Linked DNA regions of Homo sapiens. The protein of the gene in region 1 purifies or fractionates together with the protein of each later gene. This does not show direct contact. Each region holds a gene or a part of one and is shown in the gene's direction. Other genes may lie near its edges.

The links. The genes of interacting proteins can lie anywhere in the genome.
Region 2: the proteins of SULT1C4 (region 1) and WDR59 purify together in Homo sapiens (affinity purification with mass spectrometry; one large-scale study listed by BioGRID and IntAct). This does not show direct contact.

What each region holds. Positions count from the first base shown.
Region 1 is NC_000002.12:108,380,954-108,384,453, forward strand, and holds part of SULT1C4 (sulfotransferase 1C4), read left to right. Parts: intron 1-758; exon of another isoform or gene 759-808; coding exon 809-934; intron 935-1,431; coding exon 1,432-1,529; intron 1,530-2,139; coding exon 2,140-2,266; intron 2,267-2,462; coding exon 2,463-2,557; intron 2,558-3,500. UniProt on the Homo sapiens protein: Sulfotransferase that utilizes 3'-phospho-5'-adenylyl sulfate (PAPS) as sulfonate donor to catalyze the sulfate conjugation of phenolic compounds.
Region 2 is NC_000016.10:74,912,124-74,915,623, reverse strand, and holds part of WDR59 (GATOR2 complex protein WDR59), read left to right. Parts: intron 1-3,261; coding exon 3,262-3,426; coding exon of another isoform or gene 3,427-3,477; exon of another isoform or gene 3,478-3,500. UniProt on the Homo sapiens protein: As a component of the GATOR2 complex, functions as an activator of the amino acid-sensing branch of the mTORC1 signaling pathway. The GATOR2 complex indirectly activates mTORC1 through the inhibition of the GATOR1 subcomplex.

The sequences.
Region 1 (3,500 bases):
GGGGGAAACAGAGAAAGGCGAAAAATTGAATACTAAGTGCTAATGGTCAATATCAAGTTCAAGCCCTAATGGTTCACTCATTCAGCCAACAAATACTAAGTGTCTCCTACGCTATGCAACTGGGAAAAAGAGAGTTTGAAAATCATGTAGTCATTTCTCTATAGCAGATCACAATTTGGGGAGAATGTCCTTTCTAAGGACAATACAGCTAAATAAATAGAACAATAATAACAATCCAAATTAATAGTTGTGACAGAAAAAAATAAATGTATATTTATCAGTCTAATGTCCATTCAAAATTGGAGTATTTTTTTAAAATCATATTATGATAATAAGATATAAATAAGGAATGCTATCTTCTGAATCCCATTTAAAACCTAGCTTTTAAATTCACATAGATGGTCCAGGCATGGTGGCTCACACCTATAATCCCAGCATTTTAGGAGGCCGAGGCGAGCAGATCACTTGCAAGCAGATCACTTGAGCTCAGGAGTTCCAGATCAGCCTGGGCAACATGGTAAAATGCCGTCTCTACAAAAAGTATAAAAATTAGCCAGGGGTGATTGTGTATGCATGTAACCCCTGCTACTCAGGAGGCTGAGGCGAGAGGATCGCTTGAACCCAGGAGGCAGTGAGCCAAGATTGCACCATTGAACTCCAGCCTTGATACAGAGCAAGACCCTGTCTCAAAAAACAAAACAAAACAAAACAAAACAAAAGACATAGATGTTCTAACAAGTATTTGATCATATTTTAAGGAATGTACTATACTAGATGTCTATTCATCTTCATTTTACGTGCACGTAAGGAACAACATGGACTCAGGAGATAGTGGAATTAATACAAAATGAAGGTGATGTGGAGAAAAGTAAACGGGCACCGACTCATCAACGATTTCCTTTCCTCGAAATGAAAATCCCATCCTTAGGATCTGGTGAGTATAAATAGCCACACTTCACTACAGTCCTAAAATGCACTTAGGATTTTTACTGTCTTTGCACCTTTCGAAATTATAGGCTTTCAAACAATTATTGGTAAGTTTCATGGTTTTGTCTTTTTTTAACTGTGTCTGGCCATTGTTATACTCCAGACATTTTCTAATGGAATTACTGTTTGTACAAAAGTGAGTTAAATTTTGTTTCTCTAGTTAGAAATTAATTTTACTTCAAAAGAATAAGCTCAAGTAAGATAATCCTGGTGAAAGGGTTTGAATTTTTTAGGTTCTTATTTATTTGGATGACTGTTATGGTTAGGAATTGTTCTAGTCAAAACATCTATTCATAGGCTAGACGTATTCTCTCACACCAGATCTACAGTTACAATGTTCTTATAGATGCTTTGAATTGTAGTAGTAATAATGGAAGCAGCAAGACTTGGAAGCAAATAGATAAAAAAAAAATCGTAGAAATTGATCGAAAACCAGTTTTGCAGGTTTGGAACAAGCTCATGCAATGCCCTCACCACGGATCCTGAAAACACATCTTCCCTTTCACTTGCTGCCACCATCCTTGCTAGAGAAAAACTGTAAGGTAAAAAAGCAAAAGGAATTCAGAGTTGTACTCCTTAAAACAACCTTAGTCTTCCATTTCCTCTTAAAACACTTCACTTGTTAAATATATATATATATACCTCTTCACAATAATCAATATGCAAATTAATATGAATCCTAGCCAGGCACGTTGGCTCATGCCTGTAATCACAGCATTTTGGGAGACTGAGATGGGTGGATCAGTTGAGGTCAGGGGTTCAAGACCAGCCTGACCAACACGGCGAAACCCCATCTCTACCAAAAACACAAAATTCACAGGACGTGGTGACACATGCCTGTAATCCAAGCTACTCAGGAGGCTGAGGCAGGAGACTCGCTTGAACACAGGAGGCAGAGGTTGCAGTGAGCCAAGATAGTGCCATTGCACTCCAGCCTGGGTGACAGAGCAAGACTCCATCTCAAAAAAAAAAAAAAAAAAAAAAAAAAAAAGTCTCCCATAACCAGGATGACAAGAATGCAGCCTCAGAAAAAATGAACTGTATGAAATGTATCTACCCTAACATGACTTGCCTGGGCAGTAACAGCAAAAAAAAAAAAAAAAAATTCCTGTTTTTTTGCTTCTTCCCTTCCCCTCCCCTCATCATTCCCAGATAATCTATGTAGCAAGAAATCCCAAGGACAACATGGTGTCCTATTACCATTTCCAAAGAATGAATAAAGCTCTTCCTGCTCCAGGAACATGGGAAGAGTATTTTGAGACTTTTCTGGCTGGGAAAGGTGAGAGAATTTAGCTTTGTTTCCCTTCGTTTCTCAAAATCTCCAAACACCCTAGAAGGAAAGAATCTTTTCTTTTGACCAGCAGGGGCTCTGCCTTCTTTAATGGAACATTCTCACTTCTCTTCAGGAATTCTCCTTTCAGTGGTATAATAGGACCTCTGTGACTCATTGTCCTGTTTTCCATCCCATCCTCCAGTGTGCTGGGGCTCCTGGCATGAACATGTGAAAGGATGGTGGGAAGCCAAAGACAAACACCGTATTCTCTATCTCTTCTATGAGGACATGAAGAAGGTGAGCACAGTGCCATCTAAGGTGTACCCACTGGACCATAAAACATTTAAGTCATAATGCATTGACCCCATCAGGGACTCAGATTGATGCGGGGAACCGAAAATTGCTGCACTTCATTGGTTACAGCTGTCATTTGTCAAAGTGCACATGGCTGATCATGAGTTTAAGTATCACACAGTCTCACCTGCAGCTTCCTGGTGCTCCCAGGGATGCTGCACATTTCCCTTACAGGCAGGTTATTACACAATATGGATGGTGTCATTTTCTCCCTTGCATGTCTATTTTAAAATGCAGTTTAGCAGGAAAAAAAATCCTAGCACATTTTGGTTTCTTTGGTTTTTGGGTTTTTTTTGTTTTTGTTTTTGTTTTTGAGACAGAGGAGGAGTTTCACTCTGTCGCCCAGACTAGAGTGCAATGGTGCGATCTCAAGTCACTGCAAGCTCCGCCTCCCGGGTTCAAGAGATTCTCCTGCCTCAGCCTCCGGAGTAGTTGGGATTACAGTCGCCTGCCACCATGCCAGCTAATTATTTGTATTTTTAGTAGAAACCGGGTTTCACCATGTTGGCCAGGCTGGTTTTGAACTCCTGATCCCAAGTGTTCCACCCTCCTCAGCCTGCTAAAATGCTAGGATTACAGGCATGAGCTACCATGCCCAGAGTTTTTGTTTTTTTATTAGCACTGAGGAACATAATACTTTATTTATTTATTTATTTATTTATTTATTTTATTTATTTTTTGAGACGGAGTCTCACTCTGTCACCCAGGCTGGAGTGCAGTGGCGCGATCTCTGGCTCACTGCAAGCTCCGCCTCCCGGGTTCACACCATTCGCCTGCCTCAGCCTCCCACGTAGCTGGGACTATAGGCACCCGCCAGCACGCCCGGCTAATTTTTTGTATTTTTTACTAGAGACGGGGTTTCACCGTGTTAGCCAGGTCTCAATCT
Region 2 (3,500 bases), on another chromosome or scaffold:
GCCAACATGGTGAAACCCTGTCTCCACTTAAAAAAAAAAAAAAAAATTAGCCTGTAATTCCAACTACTCGAGAGGCTGAGGCACAGGAATCACTTGAACTTGAGAAGCAGAGGTTGCAGTGAGCCAAGATCGCACCACTGTCCTCCAGCCTGGGTGACAGAGCAAGACTCTGTCTCAAAAAAAATAAATAAAATAATTAAATAAATAAATAAATAAATAAGTAAATAAAGAGATGCAGACTTTCTTTCTACCCCTATTCTTTTCTCCTAAGATGAGCCAAAGGAGAACCTGATGCTCGTGTGCCTTAGCTCCTCCTTAGATGCTCCAGCATCTCATTTTACTGTAGAGGAAGATACTTAGGCCCTGGAGGCTTAGTGATTTGGCAGAGGTTGCTGCTGAAGTTGGGGACAGAGTTGACTTGGGAAGCCAAACCTCCAGCCCGTCCAGGGCACTCTGTGCTGTGCTGTGCTGTGCTGTGCTGGGCTGTGCCATCTTCTCTCACAGGCTGGCCATTTCCTGGTAATTTAGATTCACAGTAAGAAGGCAACCAAAACTTCTTTGTTTGCTTAGCCTGTGGAACAGTTACTTTTTTGGGGGCAAGTATTGAAAGTCTTTGCTTCAGAAAATTGAGTATCTCTCCAGAAAGGAGTTTTAAAGCTTGATTAGTTTTTCCTTTACCCAAATATGTGCTGTTACATAACTATCTCATGTGGCTTTTAAAACAAGTCTGCTGGCCAGGTGCGGTAGCTCACGCCTGTAATTCCAGCACTTTGGGAGGCCAAGGTAGACGGATCACAAGGTGAAGAGATCGACACCTTCTTGGCCAACATGGTAAAACCCCGTCTATACTAAAAATACAAAAATTAGCTGGTCATGGTGGCGTGCGCCTGTAGTCCCGGCTATTCACGAGGCTGAGGCAGGAGAATCGCTTGAACCCAGGAGGCAGAGCTTGCAGTGAGGCCGAGATCACACCACTACACTCCAGCCTGGCGACAGAGCAAGACTCCGTCTCGAAAAAAAAAAAAAAAATAGTCTGCTGTAAGTGGTTTTAGCCTCACTTTACAGCTGAGGAAACGGAGACATCAAGAGAAGAAATGTCCAAGGTCAGCAGCTATTTGGTGGAAGAAACAACATGTGAATCCAGGTCTCCAGATTTGCCACATGTGGTTCTTTTCTCTTTACTCCAGCTGCTGTCTCTAGTTGGCAACACAAGAAATGAAAAGATATAAAGGATTCTTTGCTTAATTAGTGATCTATATCAAGTCAGTTTATACTCCCTTTGTCCCATTTGAGGACAGTGTGGATACCTAGTGATCTAGTTTAAGATCTTGATTCCTTTCTTCGAGAGTACTTTAAAAAAATTATTGAGATATAATTCACACAGTATAAAGTTCATCTTTTTTTTTTTATTGAGATGGAGCCTTGCTCTGTCCGCTCAGACTGGAGTGCAGTGGTGCTACCGTGACTCACTGCAGGCTCTGCCTCTCGGGTTCACGCGATTCTCCTGCCTCAGCTTCCCAGATAGCTGGGATTATGGGCGCACGCCACCACGCTCAGCTAATTTTTTTTCGTATTTTTAGTAGAGATGGGGTTTTTGCCATGTTGGCCAGGTTGGCCTCGAACTCCTGATGTCAGTTGATCTGCCCACCTTGGCCTCCCAAAGTGCTGGGATTACAGGCGTGAGCCACTGTGCCCAGCCAAAATTCCGCTTTTTAAAGTATATAATCTGGCTGTTGTGGGTATATTCACAAAGTTGTACAGCCATTACCATTGTCTGATTCCAGAACATATTCATCATTCCCAGAAGAAACCCCATACCCATGAGCAGTCACTCCCTATTTCCCCTTCCCTCAGCCCGTGGCAATCCCGAATCTACTTTCTTCCCCTATGGATTTTCCCAGGAGCACTTTTTAAGTTGAGTCTGGTATTTAACTTCTTCCTGCTTTATTTTCCCATCTCAAAGTAAATATAACAAGTTTCAGTCTACCCCACAGCTTTGGGAGGGAGGAAGCTTTGTTAAAGTCAGAATACTTTGAACTTCGTGGTGGCTCATGCCTGTAATCCCAGCACTTTAGGAGGCCAAGGTGGGTGGATCACTGGAGGTCAGGAGTTTGAGACCAGCCTGGCCAACATGGCGAAACCCCATCTCTACCAAAACACAAAAAGCAAAACAACAACAACAACAACAAAACAAAGATTTGCTGGGCATGGTGGCCTGTAGTCCCAGTATTTGGGAGGTTGAGGTGGGAGAATCACTTGAACCCAGAAGGTGGAGGTTGCAGTGAGCTGAGATTGTGCCACACTGCACTCCAGCCTGGGTGACAAAGTGAGACCCTGTCTCAAAAAAAAAAAAAAAGAATACTTTGTGTTGGGAACAGGCCCCCTGAAATCTGGCCATAAACTGACCCTCTGTGTTGTTTGTCTTTGTGTAGTCTGCAGATGTGGATCTTGACTCCTGCAAGAAGTAGCTCACCGTGACAAAGCTGCCTTTGCTTTTATCACTTTGCAAATCAAAGAAGGGGGACATGTTGGGAACAGGCCCCCCCCCCCCCCAAAATCTAGCCATAAACTGGCCCCAAAACTGGCCATAAAGTCTCTGCAGCACTGTGACATGTTCATGATGGTGGTGATGCCCACGCTGGAAGGCTGTGGGTTTACCGGAATGAGGGCAAGGAACACCTGGCCCACCCAGGGCAGAAAACCGCTTAAACACGTTCTTAAACCACAAACAATAGCATAAGCAATCTGTGCCTTAAAGACATACTCCTGCTGCAGATAGCTAGCCACAGCCCATCCCTTTATTTCAGCCCATCCCTTTGTTTCCCATAAGGAATACTTTTAGTTAATCTATAATCTATAGAAACAATGCTTATCACTGGCTTGCTGTGGATAAATACATGGGTAAATCTTTGTTCAAGGCTCTCAGCTCTGAAGGCTGTGAGACCCCTGATTTCCCACTCCACACCTCTATATTTCTGTGTGTGTGTCTTTAATTCTTCTGGCACTGCTGGTTTAGGGTCACCCCGACCGAGCTGGTCTCAGCAACTTTGAGCTTATTCCATTGGTTTGAAAATTTTAAGAATCTGGTATGAAAATTTAAGAATCTTTTTGAAAATGAATTGTCTTCCACACACATTTGTCTTTGTAGACTCTTTCCCTTCATTCAATTACCAGGAACATGGAGCGTTCAGTTAAATGTGCTTGCATCGAAAGACGCTTTATGGTTTGTTTCTACAGCAATTGTGGATTTGTCTCTTGCAGATGGATGCGGCAGACAGGAGCTGCACAGTGTCTGTGCACTGCAGCAACCATCGTGTCAAGATGCTGGTGAAGTTCCCTGCACAGTACCCAAACAACGCCGCCCCTTCCTTCCAGTTTATTAACCCCACAACCATCACATCCACCATGAAAGCTAAGCTGCTGAAGGTGGGGGTCTGGGTTCCCAAATTCTCCTTGCTGTTCTGCATCATTGTCTAGATGGATTAGTAAAGAAGAATGAA